Linked DNA regions of Homo sapiens: region 2 is linked to region 1. Evidence: fine-mapped expression QTL. A gene starts in region 1. The other region holds a variant in brackets. All regions are shown on one strand. Distances are from middle to middle. Region 1 holds the start of ELOVL2-AS1 (ELOVL2 antisense RNA 1). Region 2 overlaps ELOVL2 (ELOVL fatty acid elongase 2).

What was found. PIP is the estimated chance that this variant, and not a neighbour inherited with it, causes the effect.
Region 2: its variant is fine-mapped to the expression of ELOVL2-AS1 in spinal cord (GTEx, PIP 0.92).

The regions. Positions count from the first base shown.
Region 1 is chr6:11,036,100-11,052,638 of GRCh38, reverse strand. ELOVL2-AS1 (ELOVL2 antisense RNA 1) reads right to left here and starts at 8,881. Exons shown (of 5, transcript NR_038964.1): 1 at 8,814-8,881; 2 at 4,640-4,730; 3 at 3,420-3,530. ELOVL2 (ELOVL fatty acid elongase 2) reads left to right here and starts at 8,334. Exons shown (of 8, transcript NM_017770.4): 1 at 8,334-8,411. The coding sequence starts at 8,409. RefSeq lists enhancers at 6,803-7,303, 7,304-7,804 and a silencer at 8,239-8,438.
Region 2 is chr6:10,975,579-10,992,117 of GRCh38, reverse strand. It overlaps ELOVL2 (ELOVL fatty acid elongase 2), which reads left to right. Exons shown (of 8, transcript NM_017770.4): 6 at 1,676-1,800; 7 at 2,281-2,415; 8 at 8,212-11,359. The coding sequence ends at 8,337. Among named protein-coding and RNA genes, the nearest start is that of ELOVL2-AS1, 60 kb to the left of the region's middle. RefSeq lists an enhancer at 15,435-15,935. The variant G/C (reference allele first, on the strand shown) is at 8,380.

The sequences.
Region 1 (16,539 bases):
ACACACCACCACGCCCAGCTAATTTTTTTGTATTTTTAGTAGAGAAGGTGTTTCACCATGTTGGCCAGGCTGGTCTCAAACTCGTGATCTCGAGTGATCCACCCGCCTCAGCCTCCCAAAGTGCTGGGATTACAGGCATGAGCTACTGTGCCTGGCCACCTGATGACTTCTTAATACATTTAAATTCCTTGCTTTAGGGTGAAGTTGACAAAATTTTTGAGTAGATTATTTGTTGGCATACAGGGTTTTCATATTGAAGGCTTTTGTTCTTGATGACAATAGAAAGAAAATGCAGGACCAGTCAGTCTAAGGTGAAGCAAAGTCAAGGGAAGAGTCTACTAAATTTTGTGCATCCATGTAAATTTTATCACCAACTACATTCACAATAACATCTTCAATAATTTACAATAATGAAAAGAATTTGTGGTAGCACGAACTTGTAATCCTGGCTCCGCAGGATGCTAAGGCAGGAGGATCCCTTGAGCGCAGGAGTTCAGGACTCCATCTGGGCAACATAAGGAGATCCCATCTTGGCCAGGTGTGGTGGCTCACGCCTGTAATCCCAGCACTTTGGGAGGCCGAGGCAGGCAGATCCCTTGAGGCCGGGAGTTTGAGACCAGCCTGGCCAACATGGTGAAACCCCGTCTCTTCTAAAATACAAAAATTAGCCAGGCATGGTGGCATGCACCTGTAATCCTAGTATTTGGGAGGCTGAGGCAGGAGAATCACTTGAACACAGGAGGGAGAGGTTGCAGTGAGCTGAGATCGCACCACTGCACTCCAAGCTGAGCGACACAGCAAGACTCTGGATCAAAAAAAAAAAAAAAAAAGGAGATTCCCATCTCTAAAAAAAAAACCAACTTTACAATAATGTTGTAAAAATCATTTGTTACAGATCAGCCCAACTACAGGCCAAAAAATCATAGACTTCAAAATGATTAATTATGAGTTGCTAGTCTAGTCTCTTATTTACATTACTCTAATTCTAGCAGAAGAGGATGTGTGGCTTCACACTGCCACACCCCCCCACACTCACACTCACACAATCACACAATGGGGAATGGAAAGGGGGAGTCCATGCAGTGTGCCCTCCTTGAGACCTAAATGGTTGCATTTTTATCAGCATTTTCTCTCCTTCTTCAGTTGAATTCTAGGCTTCAAGTTTGCTGTAGAGTAGGTTTGCAACAAAAATAGGCTGGAGGACTACTGTGTGGGGTTAATCTTGGAGGGGTACACCTGGGAAAGGAACAGCCACTCTGTGGTATGGATTGGGATGGCTATCGCAGGTCATGCCGAGGGACTGCCTTCCTTGTGAAGTACACTATCCCACTTTATGCCCGTGCTACTTGCCATGAATACATTTTAAAAAAAAATTTAAAAAGAAATCAACAAAGACAATTTAAGTAAAATAGCATCTGTGAAAGACAAAATGGTAAAGTGCAAGAATGCGTAAATAAGATCAGTTAAGTGAGCATAACAAAAAGATGAAAGATAAAGTCCAATGGCTACAAGGGTACAAAGTAATGGCCCCCATTAGATTTTTTAAACTAGGATAACTGCAGCTGACCAGTAAACATCACATAAAAATGTTCTGCCAGGACCCGGATTCCTTAGGACTGAGGTCCTCAAAGGCATAGCAACAGAGCAGGGACCAGTGGCCATGGTGTCAACAAACACATGGATCTCTATCTATAGGATTTGGTCTGCATCCTCACTACAATCCCTGATGATTCACACTTTCCAGACACACTGGCTAACTTCCTGTTCCTCAAAGAAGCCTGATTTTTCTGTCTCGAAGTGTTTCCATTTGCTATCTTCTCCTGGAAGGATTTCCCCTAGATCTTCTCATGGCTTCATGGCTGGCTTGTTTTCATCAATGGATCTCAATTTAGATATTATGTGCTTAGAGGGGCCTTTCCTGACCATCCTATTTAGAGTGTTCTCCCCAAGGAAAGGACACCTACTTCAATAAAGGGTGCAGGAGAAACTGGATAACCATATGTCAGAGAATGAAACTGGACTCCTACCTCTCACCATGTACAAAAATTAACCAAGATGGATTAAAGACCTAAGTGTAAGACCTGAAACTTCAAAAATCCTAGAAGAAAACCTGGGAAAAAACTCTTTTAAAAGACACTGGCCTAGGCAAATAATTTATGACCAAGTCCTCAAAAGCAAACACAACAAAAACAAAAAATAGACAAATGGGACTTAATTAAACTAAAAGGCTTCTGCACTGCAAAAGAAATAACCAACAGATTAAACAGACAACCTACAAAATAGAAAAACAATTTGCAAACTATGCATCTGACAAAGGGCAAATATATAGAATCTACAAGGAAATCAAATAGCTCAAGAAGAAAAAACCAAATAATCCCATTTTAAAATGGACAGAAAATATGAACAGACTTTTTTTTTTTTTTTTGAGACAGAGTCTCACACTGCCACCCAGGCTGAAGTGCAATGGTGCAATCTCAGCTCACTGCAACCTCTACCTTCCAGGTTCACGTGATTTTCTTGCCTCAGCCTCCCAAGTAGCTAGGATTACAGGTGCACACCACAACACCCGGCTAATTTTTTGTCTTTTTAGTACAGACAGGGTTTCACTATGTTGGCCAGACTGGTCTCAAACTCCTGACCTCGTGATCCGCCCGCCTTGGCCTCCCAAAGTGCTGGGATCACAGGCATGAGCCACTACGCCCAGCCAACATTTTTCAAAAGAAGACATACGAGTGGCCACCAAACATGAAAAATGCCCAATATCACTAATCATCAGAGAAATGCATTTTAAAACCACAATGAGACATCATCTTACACCAGTCAGAATGGCCATTATTAAAAAGTCAAAAAACAACAGATTGGCAAAGATGTAGAGAAGGAAATGCTTATACATTGTTGGCGGGAATGTAAATTAGTACAGCCTTTATGGAAAACAGTATGGAGATTTCTCAAAGAACTAAAAATAGAACTACTATTTGATCCCTTAATCCCACTACTGGGTATATACCCAAAGGGAAAGAAATAATTATATCAAAAAGATACCTGCACTTGTATGTTCATCATAGCACTAATCATAATAGCAAAGATATGGGATCAACCTAAGTGTCCATCAATGGAGGACTAGATTAAGAAAATGTGTACACATACATGCACATACATACACACACCGTGGAATACCAGTCAGTCATAGAGAATGAAATCATGTGATTTGCGGCAACGTGGATGGCACTGGTGACTTTAACAGGTTGAAAAATTAGGAGGGTTGAAAAATTACCTATCAGGTAGTATACTATTTAGTGATGGGTACACTAAAAGCCCAGACTTCACCAATATGCGATATATGCATATAAGAAATCACACACCAAAATCTGTCGGGGTTGGGGGGTGATGGAAGGGAGAACATTAGAACAAATACCTACCTAATGCATGCGGGGCTTAAAATCTAGATGACGGGTTGAAGGGGCAGCAAACCACCATGGCACACGTATGCCTATTAACAAACCTGCACATTCTGCACATGTATCCCAGAACTTAAAGTAAAATAAAAAATTATAATAATAATTAAAAAAGAAATCTGTACTTGTATGCATTAAATATATAAAAATTAAAATACATAAAAAACTTAAAAAGCAAAAACCTAGAAAAATAAAGTGCTACCCCCAAGTCACTCTATCATCATACTGTTTCTTCATGACATTTCTCTATCTAGACTTATTGTCTTCTTCCTCTCGTTGAAATATGAGCTTCATAAAACAAGGGAAGTCACCTATATTGTTCCATACCATATTAATATCATCCAAGTTCTACAGAAATTGGCACTTTTTCTTGTAAAGGGCCAAATAGTAGCTATGTGGGGACTTGCAGACCATACAGTTGTGTCACAACTCTGCTGTCCTAACATGAGAGCACCCACAGACAATACGTAAACATAAGGACACAGTGGTATTCTAATACAAACTTTATTTACAAAAGCAGGCAACTGGCTGGATTTGTCCTGCCACTGTAGTTTGCCATCCTCTGCTCTAGAATGTTATACTAGAATATAGTACTCAGCATAATATTTTCAAATGAATTAACATAAACTTTATTTTAAACCTGGATTGATACAAGGTCATGATTGTCTCCTTGTTACTACATCCAATCAAATGACCAATATATACATATATTGCTTTGTCATAAATCCTTAGTCCTAACATATCGAGTGAAAGCTGCACTAAATTTGATGGAGGGAACTCAGTTTTTTCAATGTGCCTTCACTTGGGCTTAATCTTTACTCTTTATCTTACTATTTTTCATTTCTAAACTCATATAGGTGCAGAGCTTTCTTAACACAAAGCAGAGCCCATGGCCAAGGAAAGGACGTGATTTCCAGAGTCTGTTTCTACTACTACCCTAAAAGTACAAATACTTTGAAGAAATGTAGTAAACTGATTTAAAGTCATAATACATTGTAAGTGAGTATTTTTCTCAAGATAAAACACAAAGATGCTAGGTATATCAAAAGAAGGGATGCTTCAGAAGAGAACCACACTAAAAGGAGATTAAACTCCCCCCAAAACAAAGCTTGCCTACTTCATAATTTTGATGAGGGCTGGCAGACTAGCACTGCAGAGGCAGTAGAGACAATGAGAATACTCACCCAGGATTCAGGAGATCCAGGCTTTAGCACTGTCATCTATTAATCGGTCTTCTCTAACTCCTCTGAGACACACTTTCTGAACCTATAAAATCTACGATATGTGACAGAGGGAGAGAAAGAGCATCAGTCAGATCTCTATTTTTAGGTTTAAGATTCTTAGATTATGCTAATCATCACTTTATATAGCACCACATCCATGTAAGTACCTAACACACAATTAGTCTATGTTATTGTACACATGCTCAATATGGGCTTGCCGTACAGCTAAGAAACAGAGTCCAGCTTTTGTGTAATCCATACAAGAGAACAACGAAAGTAAATATTATAAAATCATGTAAGTGATGGCATGTTAAATTTTCCATTAAGTGGGAATTCATGTTATACCCAGTTAAGACCCTCTCCCAGTTATATCTGGTTAAGATATGTTTCCAGTCCTGTGTTTATACAGGTAGAACCACTTCCTTTTTTAAAAAAATTAATTAATTTATTTATTTTTGAGATGGAGTCTTGCCCTGTCACCCAGGCTGGAGTGCAATGGCGCTATCTCGGCTCACTGCAAGCTCCGCCTCCTGGGTTCAAACAATTCTCTTGCCTCAGCCTCCCAAGTAGCTGGGATTACAGGTGCCCGCCACCACGCCCAGCTAATTTTCATATTTTTAGTAGAGACGGGGTTTCACCATGTTGGCCAGGCTGGCCTCAAACTCCTGACCTTGTGATCCACCTGCCTCGGCCTCCCAAAGTGCTGGGATTACAGGCATAAGCCACCGCACCTGGCCACCACTTCCTTTTTCTATTTAATAAAATATTGGTGGGGAAAAAGACCCTCTGGCATTTGCCGTCTCATTTGTTCCTTTGTTGTAGTGATAAGGAAAGCCATAAAATAATATTTTAAGAAACAGATAAGATATAGATGACTTTTTAGATCTCCTTCTGGCCTTATGGGTTGATGTGTATTTTTAGAGAATAAAGGTAAAATAATGATTATCAGGCTAAATGGTAATGTGGAAGTATAGGGATAATTCAAAGTTTAAGAATTCCTTCCCCATGTTTACCTGGTGTGCTTTGCAAGGTTTAGATGACATCAATGATACAATTTTTGCAAGCAACAGCCGCAGGGTTCTTAGAGGTCGGTTGTCACTTAAAATTGTTTTTTCCCTTCATGTTGTTAGAAAAATAGACTAAAGCTTTCCCTGAATGGATAATGGAATTTAGTTTCTCAAAATATCATCCATGGACTGCCTGGCTGCACCAGTATCATTTGTGGTGCTTGTTCAAAATTCATATTCCTTAGAAATGGAGGTTTCACCACTTCAAGACCCATAGAGAGTCCATTATACTTTATGCAGGGTCAGAGATGCCTCTGGAATGAAGTAGATACTCCCGCAATGTGAAACTGATAGCAAATATTAAACCCAAAGCAAAACCAAAAAAAAATTCATATTCTTGGTCTGTACCTGAGGTCATCTTGATGGATCTCAAGTATCCCTGTATAGTATTAAACCCTCTGGTGCTACTTATACACAATAATGTCAAAAAATCACTATCTAGATTAAGAATTCACATTATACTGCATCAGATTAGTGATACAGTGAAATTCAGGTCCAGAGTTTTTATCATTCAATATCCAAAAGACGTGGAAGCTACTTTTATAGCTTTCAAATATAACACGTATCAAATAGAAGAAAGAACACAGGTAAAACAGAAAGAATAAAATCATTCCAAGGAAAAACAATATTTGGGGACTATTCGTGTGAATTTCCTTCAAGTCTCTCAATATCATAATATAGATCATCACAGGTTCTAAAAACTCCTAACAGCAGGGACTGTGTTTTTCTTCATCACTGTAACCCTAGCTGTTACCAAAACGCCTAGCACATAGTAGGCACTGAAATCTTTGCTGAGTGAACAAAGTAAGTGAAGCTGAAATCAAATTGTATCTTTGATTTGGGCCACACTTTTTTATAAAAATATGCCAGCATTAAATAGAATATCACTTTCTGATTCTCAAATGCATCAAATTGATAACAAATCAATAACTAGTACTTTTGTACCAGATATTTTTCTAGAGTTTTACCCATATTAATTTAACCCTAACAGCTACATGTAATGTTAAGTGCTATTTTATCCCAAATTCGTAAATCAGGAAACTGGAGCATAGACAGTTTAGGTAACCAACCCAATACCACACACCCAGTATGTGGCAGAGCTGACTCCTGAGATTTTTATCAGACTAGGTTAACCTGTTTATGGTCATAAAATCATCCGCCTTTTATAAACAAATATATGCCTAATATTTACCACTTCAGCTACAGAAATTCTATATTAGGAAGAAAAACTCTCTATTAGGAAACTATATATTAGGTGATTGTATGACAGTTAAGATTTAGCCCCGGTACCTACAGTTACTCACTCTGCTACTGCACAAAACTCTGCAAGGGCTCCCACACCGCCCCAGGTGTGGGATGCTAAGTGTATGGTGCAGGTACCTCCGTGCACAGCCACACGGGCTGCTCTCAACCCCAATAAACATGTTTACCACATGAGCCTCACATGTGGTAAACATTTTTTTTTTTTTTTTTTTTTTTTGAGACAGGGTCTCATTCTGTCGCCCAGGCTGGAGTGCAGTGGCGTGATCTCGGCTCACTGCAGCCTCCACCTCCAGGGCTCAAGCCATCCTTCACCTCAGCCTCCCGAGTGGCTGGGATCACAGGCGCAGGCCACCACACCCAGCTAATTTTTGTATTTTTTATTTAAGAGGCGGGGTTTCGCCATGTTGCCCAGGCTGGTCCCGAACTCCTGACCTCAAGTGATTCGCCTGCCTCAGCCTCCCAAAGTGCTGGGATTACAGGAGGGAACCACCACGCCCGCCAACTTCCCATGCTTGAGGGAGAAATGGAAGAAAGTTCATGTAATACTCAGGCAAGTCCAATTTTTTCGACGTCTTTCACTTGGGCCACACACACAACTAAAGTAACTAGAAGCGCAGGCTCTAGGAGGCCACCGTTCTGTTCACAGTGAAGAGGGTGCGCTCACCGTTGGTCGTGTCCGCTGGAAGCCCCGCGTCAGGCCGGGAGCGGGACAGAGACTCTTGCTCAGGGCCGTTATCCGAACTGATCCGCTTCCCACCGCACCCCCAGAGAAACCCACCCAACCCCCTAAACCTAAGAAACCCAGACTGCGCAAACCTGCAGGAACAGAGCCATTTCCCCCTAATGTGTGCTTCAAACCCACCGAAGCCCAACTGTAAGCAAGACCAGCGTGCCCGCCCTGCACGATACTGCTTCTCCCCGCAGCAGCGGCTGCCGATCTGGGCAGCGGGTGGGTATTCCTGGGGCTCCGTGGACGTTGAGCCGCCGCGCGAAACCGGCGCCGGCTGGACCTGCAAATCGCCGCCCGGCCGGCAGGGGACGCCGCGGACGCGAGGGCGAGGTCGGTCGCCCAGGAGGGGGCGCGCGAGGCCGCAGGGGCGGGGGGCGCCGCCTCACTTGCCCTGCGCCCCTCCCCCGCGCGCCCTCCTGGCGCGGCGGCCGGCGAGGCCCCTGTGGGAGAGGGGGCGGGGACGAAACGGCCCCGAGGCTCGGAGCGCCGCGCGGCGGCGGCGCGAGCCCGAGGGGGCGGGGAGGCGCGGGCGGGTGTGCGCGCGCCGGGCGTGGGTGTGGGTGGGGGTAACCGGCGCGGGCGCCGAGATAGCGCCGGGCAGAGGGACCCGGCTACCCTGGACAGCGCATCGCCGCCCGCCCGGGTCGCCGCGCCACAGCCGCTGCGGATCATGGTGAGTGGGGCCGCGCGCCGCCACCGACACCGCCGCGCTTTCTTTCTCTCCTGGACCCACGCACCGGGCGGGAAAGGGCCGAGCGGGCGCCGGCGCGGGCGCTGCGGGTTCGCCGCTGGAACCCGCTACCCTCGGAGGGGCCGGGTCCGCGCGGGCCTGGGGAGCGGGAGCTGAGCGTTTGGGCCGGGGGCGCGCGGGTCGGCCCGAGGCCCGCGGGTCTCGGGAACTTTGTCTCGGTCCCCTCTCCCCGGTCCCGCCCCGGCACCTCGAGGCGCCCGCTCGCGCCCAGTCCCCTGTTGCATGCACGGGGCCGGGCGCCCGGGATGCCCGAGGAAGCCGCCCCTCCTTCGCGGCGGCCATTCCCGCGCGCAGCCCACCCTCCGACCCTCCGGACCCCCGAACCTGCTCTCGCCACCGCCCGCCGACGCCTGGAGCGGAGAACGGCGTTTCCCGCGCGCGGCACACACCCTGCCTCGGGAGTTCTGGGGTTCGGGCCCTAACGGTCAAGCTCTTGCCCCTCTCCTCCCTTCACCGCGCCTGCACCCCGGGGGTGTGTCTGTGCACTCGTGGGTGCCTCCTGGGTTTGCAGATTGGCTTGGGAAGCGGCTGGGTTTCTATCAGTGTCTGGGCTCGGAGGGGCTTCTGGTGTGTTCTTTCCGACAACTCCTCTCTCTGCCCGATTTCCCAGGCCAGTCCTCCACTCTGGATTAGTAACGCTTCTTTCTCCTCGGCAGTAAGCTGTGTGTGTGTGTGTGTGTGTTCACCCGTGTCCGATGAACTGCCTGACAGTAAGCTGTGTGTGTGTGTGTGTGTGTGTGTGTGTTCACCCGTGTCCGATGAACTGCCTGACAGTTTTAGTAGCAGAGCCTGGTTCTTTGGTTACAAAGGGAGAACATCTGTTGTGCCATCCTCAAAGGACTGGTCTTTAGGCAAAATGTGAAATCCGCGTTTGTCTTCAGTGGTCCATATTCAGTGTTTGCCTCACCCCCTTCCCGTAGGGTTTTCTCTCCACTTCAGGACTTGTTAAAATAAGCGCACTTCCTTTCTCTTCCCCACTCCATCTGATTTTGCTCTGGCTACCCTTTTAGGCACGTACCATCTGCCTGATTATGTGTGACCACTTAATCTTAAAATTCCAACCTTTCCTACCCCGCCCACCACAGTGTATATTCCCCTTGCCTGCTTCATTTGTCTTCTCTTGAGCATGTATTAGTTAGCGTACTGCATATTTTGTTTCTTTAGCTTGTTTCTTGAACGTCTCCTCTACCAGAATATAGGTTTCAGGAAGACACAGATTTTTGTCATTTCGTTCATTGCTTGCTAGATTTCTAGTACCTACAGCAGTGCCTGGCGCACAGTAGGTACTTGATAACTCTTTTGAATTAACCCAATAAAGCAAGCTGCTTTATGTTAATGCACAGGTGGGGAGTAACTGCAAAGATTATGCAGTTGACATTTGTAATGATGAGAGTCTCAAGTGAAGTTTGGGAGGAGGGAGATACTCCCGACAGGAGGGACCCGATTTTGGCAGCCTTCAATGACGAGTCTAGGCGGCTATCTCTTATGCCTTGTCTGTCGCTTCATGCTCTTTGCACCTTGGCATCAGAGTGGACAAAGCATTTTTAGGACCAACTGGCTCTCCTTTTGGGCTCTGAAGCTTTGTCCTAAAGTATAGGTAGGAATTGTAGTGAGTAAGGGAATAAGTCCAAGGAAATCTCTTTAGCTGAATAGGAAAGTCATGGGAATGTTAACCTAAAAGAGCTAAAATCAAGGGCAAGCTCTTGAAAGCTTTATCCTGCCCAAGTGTGATGCTTCCTGTTTAGATAAGTATTTCTCAGAAACTGTGGGTCTTCAGAGGAATTTTTTTTTAATACCCAAATCCAAATTGTATTACTTTTTTCTTCTTTCTTTTTTTGTGGCAGGGTCTCACTCTGTCACCCAGGCTGGCATGCAGTGATGCAATCTTGGCTCACTGCAACCTCCACCTCCTGGGCTCAAGTGATTCTCGTGCCTCAGCCTCCTGAGTAGCTGGGATTACAGGCGCACGTCACCACACCAGGCCAATCTGTGTATTTTTGGTAGAGACAGAGTTTCACCATGTTGTCCAGTTTGGTCTCTAACTCCTGACCTCAAGTGATCAACACCCACCTCGGCTTCCCAAAGTGCTGGAATTACAAGGCATGAGCCACCATGCCCGGCTGAAATCGTATTACTTTAAAAAAAAAATGGGCAGGGAGTAGGAAAGTTAGGGGGTTGAATTTATAAATAACTTAGTGGGTCAGTTCAGAGAGACATCCTTTTCAATACATGTCCAATATGAACTGTCTTGTAAGATATCTCTGCTAGTTAGTCTTATTATTCCAAAATAAATATTTTTTCTTTCAAATTTCCTTTTGTTTTTCTATAATGTGGATTTATGGCATTGGTTTTTTAAAAATTAGTCTGGAGAAATGTATTAATTGGAAACAAATTGTTTAATAAAATTTACATAAGTTTTTGAAAATTATGTAATTATAGCTATGACTATGTAAGTTCAGCAGTTCTGTGGTTACCATCTTTCCCAGGTAGGTAGTAGAAATTAAAGGTAAAAAGGAAAGAAATATAAGTTTGTCTTTGAAATTAAAACCAATGAACCAACCAAAGATGAATGAAAGATACCTTATTGACTTAAGTTTCTATTTGTAGGATATTTTACTGTTAGGATTCCTAGGATTCCAAAGTATCCAGCCTTTTTCTCTTTCGATTCTTCGAACGTATAGCATTTTCAAGGAGTAAAAAATCAATTTTTAAAGTATCCAGTTGGGTAAGCCTAATTTTTGGTTCTTCAACAAGGGTTCCATTTAATCTAGTTTCCTTCAAAACGTTTTAGTCAGTTTGGGAGGTTCAGGTGCTTTCATGTTCCGAAAGAGAATGTTGAAAATGTGTCAAGTAGATATTATGTATCTAGTTATGTTCAGAAAACAGGGCCCTGCTATTCAGGGTTAGGTGGATGATCGTCTGGGTTGGACAGTTGGATATGTATCATCTAACTTGACAGGTTTGCATTTCTGGGAGTAGACATTGATAAGGGGAAAGAAGTTGCACCAGAAACTTCTTTAATGGCCCAATGTGGTGAAAATACGCCAGCATCAGTAGCTCATAGTAATTCTACAGTTACAGATTCACGCATTTGTAGCTTTTCTTCTTAATTGAATTGGGACATAACTGACTTTGACAATGAACAATTCTAATAAATAGTTAATTTATGACATTTTAAATCTAACCATTTAATAATTGGAGAGCATAACTTGTTCTGAAATTTATGTGACAGTTTAGAACCTGAGATCTGAGGTCATTCGTGGGCTTGAATCCTGACACCAGCATTTAACTGTGTGACCTTGGGCTTCAGTATTTTATCCTGTAAAAGATGATAATATTTCATAAGGTTTTCGGGAGGAACAAATATGATGGTGCCCTTTATGTGTCTAAAACAGTGCTTGGAGTGCTTAGTAAATATTAACTATTATAATGATGTGTGTTCTTTTTTCTCCCATATCTATTTTAGTTGAGACACTTCAGAATGATGTCTCTGTCCCTTTTGTGGTCTTAATATACAACTAATATTGCTGTCCAATAGAAATATAACATAAATCGCATATGTAATTTTCAGTTTTCTACTAATCATATTTAAAAAGTACAGAGACAAGTGAAATTAGTTTTAATAATGTTATTTAACCCAATCCATGCAAATATTTCAACATGTAATCAATGCAGAAAAAGATTTTTCCATTGTTTTTTTTCATAGAAAATCTTCAAAATCTAGTGTGTATTTTATGCTTAGAGTGCATCTCAGTTCAGGCTAGCCGTATTTCAGCGGCTCAGTGGCCACCTGTGGTTAGAGGCTACCGTATTGGACAAAGAGCTCTAGATTGTACACAACTTCCAAGTTTACCTCTTAAAGCTCTTACACCCTTTCCACTAGTGAGAACCTCACTGCCACCTTAAACCCAGCATTACAAAAAGAAAGCTACTCATCTTTCAGACTCTCTTCTCTGTTCTCTTTTGCTGTTAGTAATTCCACCAGCTCTTCAGTCTACTGTGTCTGAAATCTGATTCTTATTCTCTTTTTTATTTTATATTGTTTGTTGTCTAATATTCTCATATTTTTACTTGAAAATATTTCAAAATCTCTTTCCTCCACCCCTTGAGCCCCCTTTCCACCATTTTTGCCTTTTCTACAGATCTCCTCTTTTGTAGACTCTTTGTTTTAACTTTTTTACTTCCTGTCTCTTGGAAAATGTATATCTCTCGCTGAATCACTGGGCTCCACATTCTCTCCATTCCTTCCTCAGCCCTTTTTCATGTTGTCAGAAATGGTTTCTATTTTATAGGTTATTCCTACCCTTAATACCTTTCCTTTGTCAAATATCCAGAGAAGTATAATTACTTTCACAGATAGTCTGATAGTAAAATGATCCACTCAAGAAAAGAAGCACAGATAAAGGAGAAAAATAAGCTAGGGGAAGGGAAGATGAAATCATTCTTTGAGTTTTATTTTCCTTTCAGGAAATATCAGAGGGAATCGATTCTAGTAGTCTGTAGTACAGTAGAGAAATTATATGACTATTTATTTTATGTTTCAAAATAGCTAGATGAGAATTGTAATATTTCTAACATAAGAAAAGATAAATGTTTGAAGTGATAGATATTCCAGTTACCCTAACTTGATCATTACATTGTATACATGTACCAAAACATCACATGTACCCTGGGAATATGTACAACTATGATGCATAAATTAAAAAATAGTAACAGAGAAATATCATGGAACTGATTAATAATCACAATCACCACCACCACCACAATAGCAATGAAACTTGATGTTTATGCAGTGCTTTCTAAGAAACAGGGCACCTTCCTGTGTGCCTGGTGAACAGAGGGAGAAAACGAAAGGCACTGGACCAAGAGTCAAGAAACCTGGGTTCTAGCCCTAGCTTTATTGTTTACTAGCTCCATTCCCTTGCTTAAGTTGCTTTGAGACACTGTTTACTCACTTGCTAAATGGTGTATTATCTCTGTCACAAGATTGTTTTGTTAGAATCAAATGGGGCCTCAGCATCTTTACATTGGCTGCCCTTTGGCTGTATACATCTTTCCCCCAGAGAGCTTTATGTCTGTCTGCTTAATACTTTCATGATTAGACCTACCCTAACCACTCTACTAAAACTGGAACCTGCCTTACCATATGTCACACACCATATTCACACACACAGTTGGATATGTACCACACCTGATCCTCTTACACTGCTTTATTTTTTTTCCACAGCACTTAAAACTAGCAGTTTGCTAATTTACATAGCACTTGGAACCATTTAATCATTAATCTCTTGATAAATTTAAAATTATTTAATTATCACAATTCAGTTTGAGCATGTTTCAGTAATACAGCTGCTTCATCAATACACATTTGCCTGTGTAACCTTTTAGTAAATGATAATATGTATTCCTACAGCATATTTACACTTCATAGTCATATTTGTGGAAAGGGCCAGGTTATGTCATTTTTAAATAATTTAATCCATATTTCATCATAAGTTTTTAATGAAATTAAAATGCATATGTATTTCTATTTTTAGATAAATCTATACTTATAGCATTAAGTTCTTGCTGAAATTAAAAATGATTATCTTAAAATATAAACAAAGCTATGATATATGGATTTGCTGAGTAATTTTATTTTTATTTTTATTTATTTATTTATTTATTTTTGAGCTGGAGTCTTGCCCCATCACCAGGCTGGAGTGCAGTAGCGCAATCTTGGCTCACTGCAACCTCTGACTCCAGGGTTCAAGCGATTCTCCTGCCTCAGCCTCCCGAGTAGCTGGGACTACAGGCGCACACCATGCTGAATAAATAATTATTTTTACTTTACATATATGTGTGGCCTTTAGTTAGCATAACTTAAATATGATTCAAGTACTGTATAATAATACTATTTTACATTTATTAATCAGTTGAATGTTTTTCAATGCATTTTAATCCACCTTAACTCTTTCTGAAGCCTCACAAAAAAACTTTTGTGAGAGGCAAGTCCTGTAGCAACATACCTACTTTACAGTTTCAAAGAAGATAAATAATTTGCCCAAGGTCACATACTAGAGGTAGCAAAACCAGCTCTAAATATTCTCAATCCAAAATAACCACCTCTTCTGCTATTCCATATAGCCTTAGCCTTTGAGAAAGGCAGTAGTACTTTTCCCCATTATTACATATGAAAATGGAAAAATCAGAGTGACTTCCCCATGTAGTTTCTTTCCCATAAATTACAGGGATGGATAGATAGATATGGATATATACATATATTGCATATATACACTTAAACATATTAAATATATAAAGTCTTAAGTTTCATTTCATATATACAGAAAATGGAACCTGCAAAGGAAAATATTATTTGAAATGGAGGTGATTGTGAACAACATCCATATGTACTTATCAAACTTAATCCACTGACTAATATAATTTAAGGGGAACAAAGCTTTCTTTTGGATAAAATGGTACACAGACATAGAAGAACATTGAGTGGCCTGAGTGACTTGAGGGCTCACTGCCTATAAATGAGCAGTACTGAGCATGTGGCTGGTACAGTGCTCCCTTATAGTAGTAATTTTCAAGAGAAGTAAGGCCATCACTTTTTTTTTTTTTTTTTAGTAGAACGAGTGTAGTATTCAAACATTAATCAGAACAGCAGTAGCTTTACACAAAAATTTTGATATCATATATGGTATTTACTATTTGGTTTTATTTCCAATACTTTAAAGATTTAAATCTGTTGAATTTTCCACGTGACTAAGCAGAATTTGGTTAATGAGATCTTGGAGTTTAACATGCATTATGACAATGGGGAGGAGCCTTTTTTTTCTTTGGCAGGGTCAAAGAGCTCATTGACCATTACACTGAGGAGTTAGATTAAAAGTTAACTCATGCCGTCTCTCTCTCCCTCTCTGCCTCCTCTGTCTCTCTCCTCCTCTGCCTCTCTTTCCCTCTCTGCCTCTCTCTTTCCCTCTCTGCCTCTCTTGTCTCTTTCCCTCTCTGCCTCTCTGTCTCTCTCTCCCTCTCTGTCTCTCTCCTTCTCTGCCTCTTTCCCTCTCTACCTCTCTGTCTCTTTCCCTCTCTGCCTCTCTATCTCTTTCCCTCTCTGCCTCTCTTCCTCTGTCTCTCTCTCCCTCTCTGTCTCTCTCTCCCTCTCTGCCTCCTCTGTCTCTCTCTCCCCATCTCTCTTCCCCTCTCCTTCTCTCTCTCCTCTCCATCTCTCTCCCTCCTCAAAAAAAAAAAAATTAACTCATGCTTTGAAAGAAGAAAACAGAATATGTCCATAAGGCAAAAGTAAAATTAGGCTATTTTCAATTTTCCTGAAAATTCAGTTCTGAACAACTGATGTTCTATTTTGTCTCTGGAAGGTCTATGCAGAGTGTTCTCCAAGGCATGCTGGGACAAACAGGAAGCCAATACCTTGATCCTTTCTGCTCCCATTCTAGAAGCTTTCCTGAAATTGTTACAGGGAAGACATTCTCTTGGATCTGTAGCTTCCTTGACTTTTGGAAATGCAGATTTCATGACTGTTCTAATGTCAGTGGTGAATTTATGCTGAAGAGCGTGCTTTGGGATGTCAGAAAAATACTCAGTTGGCTGTGCTTTCCTCCGGGGCAACGCAGTCGAAATGGTACATGTGGGCTATTTCACATCTCAATCTCCAGAGCCCAGGGAATTGTTATTCCTTTGTAAGGAAGAGAATGCCCCCTTTCCTTTGGCCTTTTCTGTGTTCAGACTCCTAAAAAAAATGGCATATATCACAAGTCATTTTGAGATTTACTGCCTGAAGTCTGCATCAAACTCAAGAATACAAAGCAACCACACTGGCTTCACTATATTTTGGAAGCCATGTTTCTCTGTTAAAAAATAGCAGGATTATGACATCAAAGCTTTTAAAGTCCTGCCACTGCTACTAAAATGCTATCATGTTCCTTTTGTAAATTAGGTTTACTATCTCATAAATGACTTTCTGTTTACAATTTTAAAAGTAAGCAGAAACACCCTATTTTAATACCTTTCGTAACACTAATCTCATCAGTACTTGCTTCGTGTAAGA
Region 2 (16,539 bases), 61 kb after region 1:
AGTTATTAAGGAAGGACAACTATAATCAATATTAGAGGAGAATTACCAAGGTTAAGTATTTTTATGATTGTCAAGTTTCATTACAAATCACTAAGCATCTAAAACCCAAATCATCACTGTGTACAGACATAGTCCTGTAAATACTGTGACAATTTCTGCTTAAGAATATTAGAAAAATGATACTTTGACCTACCAGAGCAGACTTTCAATTTTTTGAAATGCCTTAATCTGTATCACAGTGAAATGGTGACTGTGGAAGGTGCTGTATTTCCACAGGAGTCAAACATAAGCAACAACTACTCATGGTTCATTAATTGATGGAAATGAAAAGTCATGTAGGTAAAGAAATACCACTAATACTATGCTGCTTGGTAGTCTGAAACTCTGTTTGTGTTTTCATATAAATTCAAGCGCCGTAACAGTTTATTTCAGCCAGTATTGGTTGAGAATTTACTCTATGCATGCTATTGTACCTTTTGTTTCTTATTTATTAATTTGCATTTAGCTATCCAGATCACTAATCTAGGATTAAAGAACCAGGCTAGGGAATTTAAATTGATTTATTAGCCAGCATATGTGCGGTGCTTTTAAATTCATATATTATCTCAGTTAATTTCATCCCAAACTTAAGAGCTAGTTATTATTATTATACCTATTTTCCAGGTAAGAAAATAAAAATTTACGTCAAATCAATGTCTCCAAGGGGACATAGCCAATAAATGGCCCTCTAATGCCACAATCCCTCCCACCACAGGATAGCTCGCAGAACAGCCATCTGGATCCCAGGCTGACAGCTGAAGAGCATTCACTTTGTGCCAAGCATTGTTCTAAGCACTTTCATGTACTGATGAAATCCTCACAACACTGAGTTTCCTTATTTCCAACAAGTGATGCATCTGTGGCATCTCACCTCTTGCAGCTAAATCCTTTCAATGCTTAGCTGACCCAGCATGGTACATGACCCTTTCTCCATGGTTTCCTGAAGCCTTATTCACCTATGGTGGAGGCAGTTACAGAGACGTTTCATGAGGTTGATGGCAGGGGCCTGGATTTTAGACATCCCTCATCCTAAAAGTCTCTGCAATGGCCAATCACTGGGAAGGTCTCGCTGGCCAGTTTCTCCGCCACTCCAGCCTTCTCTGTCTCCTTTATTCTTTCTCCAGCACCTCCCGGTCCCTAAGTGTCTTTCAGGCAGAATTTATTTACTTAATTATGAAAGCAATATATTTTGTCTCTCTAGCACCCTGTTCAGCCATGTACAAAAGGCTCTTTGTCAATATGTCTTATCAAAGGTTTAGCTAAAAAGCAAAGACAATTCTATTTCAGAGGAATTCTGCCAACAGCTTTAAGCTAGTATTTCTTTTCCTCCCTCAGTAGCTGATAGTAGTGACGGTTAAAGAGACAGTAAAACCTCGTAGATAAGGTGTTCCCCTGTGTGGCGGGGGGGGGGCATTCTGAAAAACCATCCCAGGCTACTCCTTCTATCATGGAGTTTTTGGTGAATCCTAGAACTGGCACAGTAATTGGGGAATTTATTAGTGTGGATTTTGTTATATGATCATGTCATATGTGCTACTCATTTTCAATTACCATGCAGAGAGAGAATCTCACTTGACAAAGAAGAATGAACAGTCCTTCCTGGAAGAATAGTGATTTTTATACTGTACTTTTATAGGTTTCTTTGGACCAACACTGAACAGTTTTATCCACATTCTTATGTACTCCTACTATGGACTTTCTGTGTTTCCATCTATGCACAAGTATCTTTGGTGGAAGAAATATCTCACACAGGCTCAGCTGGTATGTTGTCCCTTCTTTTAGCTTTTCTCCATGTGGCTTATGGATGGGGAAAGGAAATAGAAATCTTAGAAGTCAGAGGGCTTTTTATGTGTGATGAGGCTGCCCATTTTTTTTCCAAAATTGGCCTTTTAAGAATTAAACTTTTTGTGTTGAAATGCCCTTTGTGCATGCTATTAGCTTATAATGGAAAGTTCCTTGCTTTGAAATGTAGATGATTACTTTTCAAATTAATGTGTAAGTTAAATCCTTTTTGTCTAAATAATTTTAACTGCGACTTTTCCATGAGGAAATCATGGGCAATTTCACATACTAATTTCAAATAAGATTTCTGGATGAGGGGGCTGCTTCAGCAGCTTTGTTTTGTTCCTACATAATTCCAAGAGTCCTAGGAGTTGATTTCTGAATTGATCAAGCTTGGCCGCAGTGTCTGTGTGGCACAGCCTGGCTCGCTCACAGAGATGCCCTCTCTGCCGTCCCCAGGTGCAGTTCGTGCTCACCATCACGCACACCATGAGCGCCGTCGTGAAACCGTGTGGCTTCCCCTTCGGTTGTCTCATCTTCCAGTCATCTTATATGCTAACGTTAGTCATCCTCTTCTTAAATTTTTACGTTCAGGTACGTGGAATGTAAATATTCAGCAGTAAAATGTAATCGATTGGCACTATTTTTTTTTTTTTGGAGACAGAGTTTCGCTCTTATTGCCCAGGCTGGAGTGCAGTGGCATGATCTCAGCTCACTGCAACCTCCGCCTTCTGGGTTCAAGTGATTCTCCTGCCTCAGCCTCTCAAGTAGTTGGGATTAGAGGCCCGGCTAATTGTTGTATTTTTAGTACAGATGGGGTTTCGCCATGTTGGCCAGGCTGGTCTTGAACTCCTGACCTCAGGTGATCTGCCTGCCTTGGCTTCCCAAAGTGCTGGGATTATAGGCGTGAGCCACTATGCCCAGCCTAGATCATGCACTTTTACATTACATATTTGTTTAATTTTACTGATTAAATATTATAGTAGCACATGCTTGTTGATAAATTCAGGTAGCAGATACACAAAGTGAAATTTGCACTCCTAACTCCTCTCTCCACACCCTCCTCCTCAAAGGGTAACCACAGTTAATAATCTAGTGGGCATTTTTAAAAACATTTTTCAATGCATACACATAAGGTTTTATCAAAAATATCATTGGATTATATATACAGTTCTCAATTTGCAGTATGTATTTGTACCATGCTACCAAAGTCTGACATCTGAAAGTTAAAAACGTGTATAGTAAGACAGATCCAGGAAATGTGAATGGAGCAAAGCAAGGGCTTCTTCAATGTTTTTAATTTATTGAATTTCATGTTTAAAAATTGGTTCCTTATCAGCTACCCTGATGTTGCAGCCTCACTGTTTGTTTGGGAACCAGGATGGAAAGGCCGCACCGACGTCTTTATCCAGTGTCATTTTCTTTTTAGTTAACAACTTAAATGGAAGACAGCTTCAAAATGCAGTTTCAAAGCCACTCTGTTGTACAAGAACGGATGAAAGCTATAACAGAGAAGAGGCCTCAGGTGGATGTAGATTTTAAATTGCTCTCTTTTGTAGGCTGGGGAAATGGAAAGCTTAGTTTAAAAAACAAAGTACATTTATATTCAAAACTATACTTTTGAAATTGTATTCAACTGTATTTTTTTCAGACTAATAAGAAGTGCTTTACTTTTTAGTTTGCACTTGCTGAAAGTTAACCCATAGTGGTTTTTATTTTTATTTATTTTTTTGAAACAGAGTTTTGCTCTTATTGCCCAGGCTGGAGTGCAATGGCGCAGTCTCGGCTCAACACAACCTCTGCTTCCTGGGTTCAAGTGATTCTCCTGCCTCAGCCTCCCAAGTAGCTGGGATTACAGGCGTGTGCCACCACGCCTGGCTAATCTTGTATTTTTAGTAGAGATGGGGTTTCTCCATGTTGTTCAGGCTGGTCTTGAACTCCTGACCTCAGGTGATCCGCCCACCTTGGCCTCCCAGAGTGCTGGGATTACAGGTGTGAACCACCACACACATCCCCATAGTGGTTTTATACAGTGTGGAACAGTGGAAACTGAATTTTGACAGCTTTTCAGGTCTTGTATTTCTGAAATTGGACTAGGCTGTTTTAAGAGATAAAGGTTTCCTTTGAAGATTTCCAAAGAAATAATCAATGATGAGACCAAACAAAGCTATGTGTGGGTGTGCAAACCCCTGCCCCCAACTTCCCAATAAACGCTAAGTGTTAAAGGGAAGCTAAGGGAGTGATTTTGGTACCTCGTGTTGAAGAGAAGCGTATAGCCCAGCAAGAGTAGGTAATGGCATTCAAAGCCTTAGCCCTACATGCTGGTTCAAACTGCATCTTAGTTCTGAAGTCAAGCATATAATTTAAGTTTGGATCCTTGTTAATACTATTGCTTTAAAAAAAAAAAAAGTGAAAATGAGATGCGAGATCAGGTATTTTGTCAGAATAGGAAGGATATGCCAAAAACTAGATCAAGCCAGAATCCCAGGTATTGGTATTTTAAAATAACAGCACTTTTTCCACTTGAATTATTTTTAAAAGTTTTATCTTTCCAAGTGAGCAACTAATGCAGAATACTTTGCCAGCCCCACAATATACAAATCGTGACCTCTAATAGTCATTGAAATACATGCATTTGTTTTGGTCTTTATTTTTAATCTTTAACCAGAAGTTTAAAAATGATACTATAAACATGAAATCTAGGCAGAAATAAAGAAAGATGTTCTTTGAAACCAATAAGAACAAAGATACAACATACCAGAATCTTTGGGACACATTCAAAGCAGTGTGTAGAGGGAAATTTATAGTACTAAATGCCCACAAGAGAAAGCAGGAAAGATCCAAAATTGACACCCTAACATCACAATGAAAAGAACTAGAAGAGCAAGAGCAAACACATTCAAAAGCTAGCAGAAGGCAAGAAATAACTAAAATCAGAGCAGAACTGAAGGAAATAGAGACACAAAAAACCCTTCAAAAAATCAATGAATCCAGGAGCTGGTTTTTTGAAAGGATCAACAAAATTGATAGACTGCTAGCAAGACTAATAAAGAAGAAAAGAGAGAAGAATCAAATAGATGCAATAAAAAATGATAAAGGGATATCACCACCGATCCCACAGAAATACAAACTACCATCAGAGAATACTACAAACACCTCTATGCAAATAAACTGGAAAATCTAGAAGAAATGGATGAATTCCTCGACACATACACCCTCCCAAGACTAAACCAGGAAGAAGCTGAATCTCTGAATAGACCAGTAACAGGCTCTGAAATTGTGGAAATAATCAATAGCTTACCAACCAAAAAGAGTCCAGGACCAGATGGATTCACAGCCGAATTCTACCAGAGGTACAAGGAGGAACTGGTACCATTCCTTCTGAAACCATTCCAATCAACAGAAAAAGAGGGAATCCTCCCTAACTCATTTTATGAGGCCAGCATCATCATGATACCAAAGCCAGGCAGAGACACAACCAAAAAAGAGAATTTTAGACCAATATCCTTGATGAACATTGATGCAAAAATCCTCAATAAAATACTGGCAAACCGAATCCAGCAGCACATCAAAAAGCTTATCCACCATGACCAAGTGGGCTTCATCCCTGGGATGCAAGGCTGGTTCAATATATGCAAATCAATAAATGTAATCCAGCATATAAACAGAACCAAAGACAAAAACCACATGATTATCTCAATAGATGCAGAAAAGGCCTTTGACAAAATTCAACAACCCTTCATGCTAAAAACTCTCAGTAAATTAGGTATTGATGGGACGTATCTCAAAATAATAAGAGCTGTCTATGACAAACCCACAGCCAATATCATACTGAATGGGCAAAAACTGGAAGCATTCCCTTTGAAAACTGGCACAAGACAGGGATGCCCTCTCTCACCACTCTTATTCAACACAGTGTTGGAAGTTCTGGCCAGGGCAATTAGGCAGGAGAAGGAAATAAAGGGTATTCAATTAGGAAAAGAGGAAGTCAAACTGTCCCTGTTTGCAGGTGACATGATTGTATATCTAGAAAACCCCATGTCTCAGCCCAAAATCTCCTTAAGCTGATAAGCAACTTCAGCAAAGTCTCAGGATACAAAATCAATGTACAAAAAATCACAAGCATTCTTATACACCAATAACAGACAAACAGAGAGCCAAATCATGAGTGAACTCCCATTCACAATTGCTTCAAAGAGAATAAGATACCTAGGAATCCAACTTACAAGGGATGTGAAGGACCTCTTCAAGGAGAACTACAAAACACTGCTCAATGAAATAAAAAAGGATACAAACAAATGGAAGAACATTCCATGCTCATGGGTAGGAAGAATCAATATCGTGAAAATGGCCATACTGCCCAAGGTAATTTATAGATTCAATGCCATCCCCATCAAGCTACCAATGACTTTCTTCACAGAATTGGAAAAAACTACTTTAAAGTTCATATGGCACCAAAAAAGAGCCTGCATCGCCAAGTCAATCCTAAGCCAAAAGAACAAAGTTGGAGGCATCACGCTACCTGACTTCAAACTATACTACAAGGCTACAGTAACCAAAACAGCATGGTACTGTTACCAAAACAGAGATATAGATCAATGGAACAGAACAGAGCCCTCAGAAATAATGCTGCGTATCTACAACTATCTGATCTTTGACAAACCTGAGAAAAACAAGCAATGGGGAAAGGATTCCCTATTTAATAAATGGTGCTGGGAAAACTGGCTAGCCATATGTAGAAAGCTGAAACTGGATCCTTCCTTACACCTTATACAAAAATTACTTCAAGATGGATTAAAGACTTAAACGTTAGACCTAAAACCATAAAAACCTAGGCATTACCATTCAGGACATAGGCATGGGCAAGGACTTCATGTCCAAAACACCAAAAGCAATGGCAACAAAAGCCAAAATTGACAAATGGGATCTAATTAAACTAAAGAACTTCTGCACAGCAAAAGAAACGACCATCAGAGTGAACAGGCAACCTACAGAATGGGAGAAAATTTTCACAACCTACTCATCTGACAAAGGGCTAATATCCAGAATCTACAATGAACTCAAACAAATTTACAAGAAAAAAACAACCCCATCAAAAAGTGGGCGAAAGACATGAACAGACACTTCTCAAAAGAAGACATTTATGCAGCCAAAAAAACACATGAAAAAATGCTCACCATCACTGGCCATCAGAGAAATACAAATCCAAACCACAATGAGATAACATCTCACACCAGTTAGAATGGCAGTCATTAAAAAGTCAGGAAACAACAGGTGCTGGAGAGGATGTGGAGAAATAGGAACACTTTTACACTGTTGGTGTTTACACTGTAAACTAGTTCAACCCTTGTGGAAGTCAGTGTGGCGATTCCTCAGGGATCTAGAACTAGAAATACCATTTGACCCAGCCATCCCATCACTGGGTATATACCCAAAGGACTATAAATCATGCTGCTATAAAGACACATGCACACGTATGTTTACTGCAGCACTATTCACAATAGCAAAGACTTGGAACCAACCCAAATGTCCAACAATGATAGACTGGATTAAGAAAATATGGCACATATACACCATGGAATACTATGCAGCCATAAAAAATGATGAGTTCATGTCCTTTGTAGGGACATGGATGAAATTGGAAATCATCATTCTCAGTAAACTATCGCAAGAACAAAAAACCAAACACCGCATGTTCTCACTCATAGGTGGGAATTGAACAATGAGAACACATGGACACAGGAAGGGGAACATCACATTCTGGGGACTGTTGTGGGGTGGGGGGAGGGGGGAGGGATAGCTTTAGGAGATATACCTAATGCTAAATGACGAGTTAATGGGTGCAGCACACCAGCATGGCACATGTATACATATGTAACTAACCTGCACATTGTGCACATGTTCCCTAAAACTTAAAGTATAATAATAATAAAAAATATAATATATAAACATGAAATCTTATTAGAAAATCCAGTGCCCAACTGGGCACAGTGGCTCACGCCTGTAATCTTAGTACTTTGGGAGGCCGAGGCGGGTGGATCATCTGAGGTCAGGAGTTCAAGACAAGCCTGGGCAACATGGTGAAACCCCATCTCTACTAAAAATACATAAATTAGCCGGGCATGGTGGTGTGCACCTGTAGTCCCAGCTACTTGGGAGGCTGAGGCAGGAGAATCACTTGAACCCGGGAGGCGGAGGTCGCAGTGAACGGGGATCGTGCCATTGCACTCCAGCCTGGGTGACAGATTGAAACTCTGCCTCAAAAAGACAAAAACAGAAAATCCTGCGCCCAACAAAATCACATACTGTTTTAACTATATGCACTGTTAAAGACAAGGTCTTATTAAATAACCTTTTTATTTTTCTCTTCAAAATATACACATCCAACAGACATACCGAAAAAAGCCAATGAAGAAAGATATGCAAGAGCCACCTGCAGGGAAAGAAGTGAAGAATGGTTTTTCCAAAGCCTACTTCACTGCAGCAAATGGAGTGATGAACAAGAAAGCACAATAAAAATGAGTAACAGAAAAAGCACATATACTAGCCTAACAGATT[G/C]GCTTGTTTTAAAGCAAAGACTGAATTGAAGGTTACATGTTTTAGGATAAACTAATTTCTTTTGAGTTCATAAATCATTTGTACCCAGAATGTATTAATATATTGCTATTAGGTTAATCTGTTAACTGAATGCTTTGATCAGCATTGAGGTGATGCTCACCTCCGAGGACCTCAGAACTGGTGCAGCTTCTCTCTCCCTCCCTCCCACAGACTGAACCTTTCGCCAGAAGCTGTCCTTATAACGCCTTATACGCATACACAGCCAGGAAACGTGGAGCATTGTTTCTCACAGAGAGTCTCCAAATAAAAAGGGTTTTGTTCAGATTAAAATGTTTACAACAAAATGTTAATTATATTCTAAATACAGGGTATGTTCTAATCTATATTAAGCAATAATGCCAGTGCATAATCATTCCATTTGTTCCTTTAGCAATCAACCCCAGAAAATATTAAAATGGGATCATACACAGAAGATAGAAAAATCTAGCAAAACTTCTCTTTCTGTAAGCCAGAGTCTTGTCTATCAGATTCCCACAACCACTCCTGATTCTAAATTTAGTGATATGGTAATGAAATTGGTATTTATTTTAAATATTAGTTATTCTAAGGAGAAAAAAATGCTTCTGCAAGATTTTCATAATTCAGGGGCTGTGGATAGGATTGTTCCTCTGTTTCCCTAATCATTCATCTGTTCATGTCTCCCTCTTGTGCCAGTCAGCCTAGGTTATACAGATGCCATGCTCCACACCACGAGCAGTGTACAAATCTGGCTGCCCGTTTACTTTCTGAGCAAGCACTGGAGTCCACTCCGACCTTTTTCTTTGAACATGCATGCTGCTGGAATATGTATAAATCAGAACTAGCAGAAGTAGCAGAGTGATGGGAGCAAAATAGGCACTGAATTCGTCAACTCTTTTTTGTGAGCCTACTTGTGAATATTACCTCAGATACCTGTTGTCACTCTTCACAGGTTATTTAAGTTTTTGAAGCTGGGAGGAAAAAGATGGAGTAGCTTGGAAAGATTCCAGCACTGAGCCGTGGGCCGGTCATGAGCCACGATAAAAAATGCCAGTTTGGCAAACTCAGCACTCCTGTTCCCTGCTCAGGTATATGCGATCTCTACCGAGAAGCAAGCACAAAAGTAGACAAAAGTATTAATGAGTATTTCCTTTCTCCATAAGTGCAGGACTGTTACTCACTACTAAACTCTACCAAGAATGGAAACAAAGAATATTTTCTGAAGATTTTTTTGAAGATTAATTTATACCCTATAAAATAAAACTTGTTAGCTTCGATGAAGTCACTTCATCTTCTCTCCTGCCTTATTTTTTTAAATAAGTTTTTAGGTCCTGACACTGACATCAAATACATGCACACCAGAAAGGCATTTCCACCACCGTCCCCACTCATTAGCGTCCAGAGTGCCTTTCTCTCTCGGCTTTTTTTCCCCCCTGAGCTCTAGTTTTAAACTTTCTCCTGTTAAAAAAATTGTACTTTTATTTCATGTAAACTGCCCCTCTGAGGATTTGGGCATATTTTTTGGAAGGTGCCTAATGCTTAGGATAGTCTCTAGGGTGATGCACTGCACCTGCTTCCTTCCCTTCAGTGCGGCCGACCCATTTCTGTTGAACAGATGTCTCCTGTGTGATGCCCCTGACTCTTACATTTATCTTTCTAAATCATTTTCTGAAGCTGACTTGCTCTAGGGTGCTTCATCACCACTTCCATCTTGCATCACCTTATAACTGTTCTGTCTTGTTCTCTCCCAGCAATTTATTTTAAAACAAGGGCTAGCTTCAAGCATGACTGTTAATGGCTCCTCTGTGACAAAACACAAGTTGGACCAAGGAGAAAGCCCTTTGGAGAAACTGGACCCTAGTTCAGTTTAGATCTCAAATATAGGCTGAAATCTCTTACCAAAGTGCGTTCCAGATAAAAATGAGACTTAGAAGACAGACTGGTCTAATATGCTCACTGGTCATCACATTCAGCTTATTCTTACGTGCCAGTGAGGCCCTAAGGTCTCAGTGCATAGCATACCTGCCACTCTGGATGTTTTCCTGGGCTTCATATCTGTATGGCAAGGAGGGAGCTGTCCTTCAGCAGACAAAGTCAAGCAGCTTTAAGTACAAGGCAGCTTGAAACCTCTCTGATGAAAGTGAAAAATGTGGGTAGCTTATACTTTCAAACTAATGCCAGTGACTAGAGAGAGGTTTCATTCATGATGTGTATTTCCAATTTGGTCTTCAATTCAAGAGATGCTTCATAAAACACTTATAGCCTTAAACCATTCAAGGGCTAATTAAAAAAATAGTTATGAAATCTTAGCCACAAAAAATAAATCAGGTAAACATTTTAACCTGTCGTTAAGTGTTGTAACTTCAAAAAACCAAAATGCTTATTTTAATGTGATTTTTCTAAAACTATTGAAAAATTAATATTTCTATAATCTATTAAAAAAAATGGAGAATGTTTTCTCTCAAATTTCCTCTGACCCATGGGAATGAAAATACTTAAATACTGTAAAGCATATCTATTAATAATTCCCCCAATTTTTTAAACTAACAAAATGGAATGTTAACTGAATGGAATTAAACATAGCAATTGTCAAGCCATCAAAATTATATATCGAACCACTTAGGCATGTTACGGGGTAAAGTCCTCACCCCTGCATTTGAGAAATATTTTATTATTTTTATTTTAAGGCAAAACAGTGTTTACTGTGATGGGCAGAACAGCCTTTTGTATCTAGGAGTCCATTTGAGTTCTTTCCAATATTTCCATATCGTTCATAAATGTGTCTGGGGGCTTCCTTGTTTGGAAAATATGGATATCGCTTTGTTTTCCTTTGAAAGTAATTATATCTTAAGAACATAGTATCATGAATGGAGTAGACAGGGAGGCTGCAGAAGCCATTTCTCTTTGTAGATAAAAAGCATTATCTATGATTGTTGTATAATAAATTGATTTTTACATTAAATGCATGTTGCGAGTTTTATTTGGTTCAAAGCAGTTAAAATGTATGCCTGCATGGAATTCCAAATGACCTATCACTTGGGAGTTATTTTTACAATAAGGCATTATTTTAGCCATGAATTTTAGACATTTAATTCTTCTCTTGTTTCAGTGAGCAATGGATTATATCATTACCTTTACATTGTATTCATATACCAAGTTAAGCTGTTTCAAAAATGGCCATTCACTAGAAAAACGTAAGATTAGCAGAGGATATAAAGACGATAATTAATAAATTGCTATATAAAGCCACCTAGGGAGGAGCACTAGATTTGTTTGAGGAGAAATTTTTAGGCAGGAACGACATCGTGCAATGCCCTGAAACCCAGGATACAATTCACAGAGCACCTGCATGGGGAGAGAGGTGGTCAGCTCAGCTCGGGAGGAGATGTAGGTGAGTGAGGCCTGACTGTGAGGATGCCTGGGAGAGTTGAGGCGAGGGGCAGGACCACAGGTTGGCGTTTTGTCAGTGTAGAGAGTCGAGTTTTGAATGTGATATTAAGTATAATGAGACACAGATCCTAAAGAAAACTACAAAAGATGTGCTCAAAGTCTGATTAAAAAATTGCTTAAATTCCTGGATAGTGACAGGTGGGACAGGATAGATTTTAAGGAAGGGCAGGAGGAGAAGAGGGAATAGGAGAAGACCTTATTTTAGCTATCTGAATGGGGGCTAGAGTTTGGGGTGGGAGGTTAACGTTTTAGAGGAGCCTTCCCTTTGTTATTTTAAATGGTGGGTGGAACTTAATAAAACTTTGTGTTTAAAAATAAAAGATAAATCCTATGTCTCTATGGCAAGCCTAATAACTGTTGTCACAAACTTAAAGAGCTGCTTATTCAACAAGCGTTCACATCAATAAGCCTCTTAATTCCTTTATGCAAAGAAAAAATTCAGCATGTGTTTTTGTTACAGCAGGCTCTCTTCCAAGAAAAATTACATTCCCATATTTAAGGAAGAGTTTCTCTCCAGAGTATGCAAGGAAATAATCACTCCTAGGAGACTAACTACAGTCACCTCAGGATTCCCTGACCTTCAGTAAAACATGACTTTCAGTCATAGGGGGAAAAAGACTGAAAGCTATTGATTTGTAGGTCATTTTTCCATCTTCAATTGCACTGCAGAACACTGGAATAACACTGAGAGGACAAGGAAATCTGTAATCCGTACCCTCATTGAGCAATTGGTAAATGCGGTCATTGTGGATCTAACGAGCAACCCACCGGGAGCCTGTTCTGAAAGTGTCTGTGACCACATTTGGTAGGCTGAGGAAGGCGAAGCTTGTCACACATCCCTTGATGTTGCATGTGCCATGGTCTATAGCTACCTGGATGACTTGAGATGGGCATTTTCTCTTGTAGTTGCCACAATCACCATCACTCATCCTTTTTCTTTTTCTTTTTTTTGAGACAAGAGTCTCACTTTGTTGCCCAGGCTGGAATGCAATGGTGTGATCTCAGCTCACTGCAACCTCTGCCTCAGCCTCCCAAGTAGCTGGGATTACAGGCATGTGCCACCACTCCCGGCTAATTTTTTTTTTTTTTTTTCAATAAAGACAGGGTTTTGCCATGTTGGCCAGGCTGGTCTCGAACTCCTGACCTCAGGTGATCTGCCCACCTCAGCCTCCCAAAGTGCTAGGATTACAGGTGTGAGCCACGGCACCCGGCCCATTCATCCTTTTTATTCAGCCTATTAACCTGGCTGGCCCCTGAAGGCATTTGAATTTGTGATGCCTATACATTGAACAACAAAAGGAGAAAGTCTATATAGAGTTTCGCCTGGGCCCATATGATATACTTACAGGGAGATGAACACAGACTTACCGGCAGTGGCCCTAGAAACAAATGATAGATGTTGCAGATTTCTCTGAGACTGAAGCACTGTACGTAAGACAGCTCATGTAGAACCAGCTCCTATTCTTTTCAAGCTAGTTTAGACCTATGGAGTTTGATAAACTCTGGAAATAGTTATATTCAGTCTAAAAATTCATCAAATCTTGTCCAGCACTACGTATCGTGTTAGGGATATAGAATGATCTAGATGAAATATCTGTCCTCAGAGTTCATAGTCTAATAAAGTAGATAAACATTTAGCTATAAAATAAGTATTGAGGCCGGGCACAGTGGCGCACGCCTGTAATCCCAGCACTGTGGGAGACCAAGATGGGCAGATCACCTGAGGTCAGGAGTTCGAGACCAGCCTGGCCAACATGGTGAATTCTCGTCTCTACCAAAACTACAAAAATTAGCCAGGCGTGGTGGCCATGCCTGTAATCCCAGTTACTTGGCAGGCTGAGGCAGGAGAATCACTTGAACCTGGGAGGCAGAGGTTGCAGTGAGCCGAGATCACGCCACTGCACTCTAGCCTGGGCAACAGAGTAAGACTCCCTCTCAAAAAAAAAAAAAAAAAAAAAAAAAAAATATATATATATATATATATATATATATTGCCAGAGAAACATTCCTAAAGGAAGTAATGCCTGAGGTTAGTTTTGACGGGTGAAGAGTTCAAATAGACTTCAAAGAAAGTGGTGTCCCAGAAGCCAAGGAAAAAGAGAATATTTAAACAGAGAAAAACGCTGCAAGGCAGCAAGGTGAGCAACTAGTGAAGGCGTGGGGGGGGAAGGCACTGAATTTGGCCCTTGGGAGGCAGTTGGCAGATTACAGGGGGCTTTAGAATGAATGGGAAGTCGAAGAAAAACAATGATGAAGCAAGCCATATGAAAATCCTTCTGAAGAACTAGGGATGTGAAGGAACAGTTACAGTAGTTGCTGAAAGGGAGGAAGAGCTAAGGGGTGTATGTGTTGAATACTTTCAGGAGCATCTGAGTGACTGCAGCTGAGATGGAGGAGGAGGAAGCAGTAAGAAAGAAGCCGGCCCCTTGCTCAGCTCATGGGGCTGGGGCAGGGGATGCTTCAGGTGCCTTTGTCACCACAGGGAAAAATGCCCACAACAACATGCTGGCGAGACTGCAGAGAAAAGGGAATGCGTATACCCTGTTGGTGGGAATGTAAATGAGTTCAGCCCCTGTGGAGAGCAGTTTGGAGATTTCTCAAAGAACGAAAACCTGAATTACCATTCAACCCAGCAATCCCACTACTGGGTATCATCTACCCAAAGGAAAATAAATTGTTCTACCAAAAAGATACCTGCATTTGTATGTTTATCCAGCACTATCCACAATAGCAAAGACACAGAATCAACCCAGGTGCCCATCAACAGTGGATTGGATAAAGAAAATGTGGTATATATACACCATGGAATACTACACAGCCATAAAAAAGAATGAAATCATATCCTTTGCAGTGACATGGAAGCAGCTGGAGGCCATTATCCTAAGCAAATTAATGCAGGGGCAGAAAACCAAATACCGCATGTTCTCACTTATATGTGGGAGCTAAACCTTGAGTGCACATGGACATAAAAGGGGAACAATTGACACTGGGGACTCCAAAAGGCAGGGGTGGGGGAATTGAAAACCTTCCTATTGGGTACTATGCTCACTATCTGGGTGACAGGGTCAACAGAAGCCTAAACCTCAGCATCACACAATATACCCTTTAACAAACCTACACATACACCCCCGAATCTAAAATTTAAAAAGTTCTTAAAACCATAGAGTTCAATAAAAACTTAATACGATACAGGAAAGAAGACCCTTCCCTATAGTCATCTATGGCCTCTAGCAAATCCCCCTGAAAGCAGTCTACTAGAGCCCTGAACCCTGCAAAAAAACTGGCCTCGGTCTCTGTCACAGGAAGAAGGTTGGGGAAGGAGTCAAGAGGGGAGGTTGGTTCACGCAGGCCTGGTTGGCTGAGGTTCCAAGTGCAAAAGCCAGGAGTTCATCTGCTGCCTGAGGGCAAAGCAAATCCTCAGGGGAGCTGCTCGGAGGATGGAAGGTCAGAGCACAGAGGAACACCTAAAATGACAAATGAGGCTGAGGCCACAGATGGCAACAGAGTCTGCTGGGGTAGCTACAGGGCTGTTCCCGGCTACGAGTGAGTCAAAAAGGAAGGGAGCCTGAGTGTAGGGCTGGGAATGGGCCCAAAGGCTGGCTCAGTCCCCAAGGTCAGGGTGAGGAAGCTGACGCTGCTCTTCTTCCCCGAGGGCTGGATGTCAGCATCTCCAGGATGCCTCCTGGTCCAGCCTTCTCTCCGTGTTGCCTGGAAAAGCACATCGATTCCTGCATCCTGCCACCCCGCCCTGCCTTTTCAGGCCAGGGGAGCTCACACACCACCTGGCACAGCACTCCCCAGGCTGTTTTCCTGTTTCTCTGTCTAAGTGTTGGACTGATGTCTGTCTCCCCATTAGACTGCCACTCCTTGCAGGCAGGGGCAAAATCACATTGAATCCTTGGCACCCAGCACAGCACATGGCACACAGGAAGTGCTATAAGGATTCGCTGAAGAAGACAATGTGCAGTAGAGCCTCTCTAGTATTTCCAAAGAGATGTCCCCAATATCTCAAGCTCATGGTTTTTGCAACTTCCATCAACCCATCCTCAAAATTAGCTCTTTAAATCTTACACCTACCATAGCCTCTCATCTCTGTCCCCTCTTTTTCATTCCCAGTCCTATTTTAGTTGAGGCGTTTATTGTAACAGTAACCTCCCACAGTGTACTGAATGCAGCCTTCATATTGCTACCAGATTAATCTTCCAAAACCACTGTGCTCCTGATGTCTTCAGTGGCTTCTTCTCACCTACAGAATAAAGTCCTTCTAATCAAGCTGGTAAAGACACTTTAGTTTGGGCCTAGCTAAATTTAATTCCCACTAATACTCCATAGTATTATGGCCTCAAACAAATTCTGCATTTTTCTTCTCTGTTCTTATATTCATGAAAGCATCTCTTTCCTAATCCTAGAAAAAAACTCCTTCATCCTTCAAGATCTATTTCAAGTGATACCTCTCCTCCAGGAAGCCATCCTGCCACCCCAACAAAAATGACTTCTACCTCCTCATAATCCCGATGGTGATCACTTTACACTTCATTTTGGCACTTGTCACATAGAGCCTTGATTTACAGTGACCTGGGTGTCTTACTGTCCTCTCTAGACTAAGTTCTTTGCAGCTAAGATAGCGTCGTATCCATCCTAACATCTGCCACATCAGCTTACTCAAGGGTTTGTAGAGAACAGTGCTCAAAT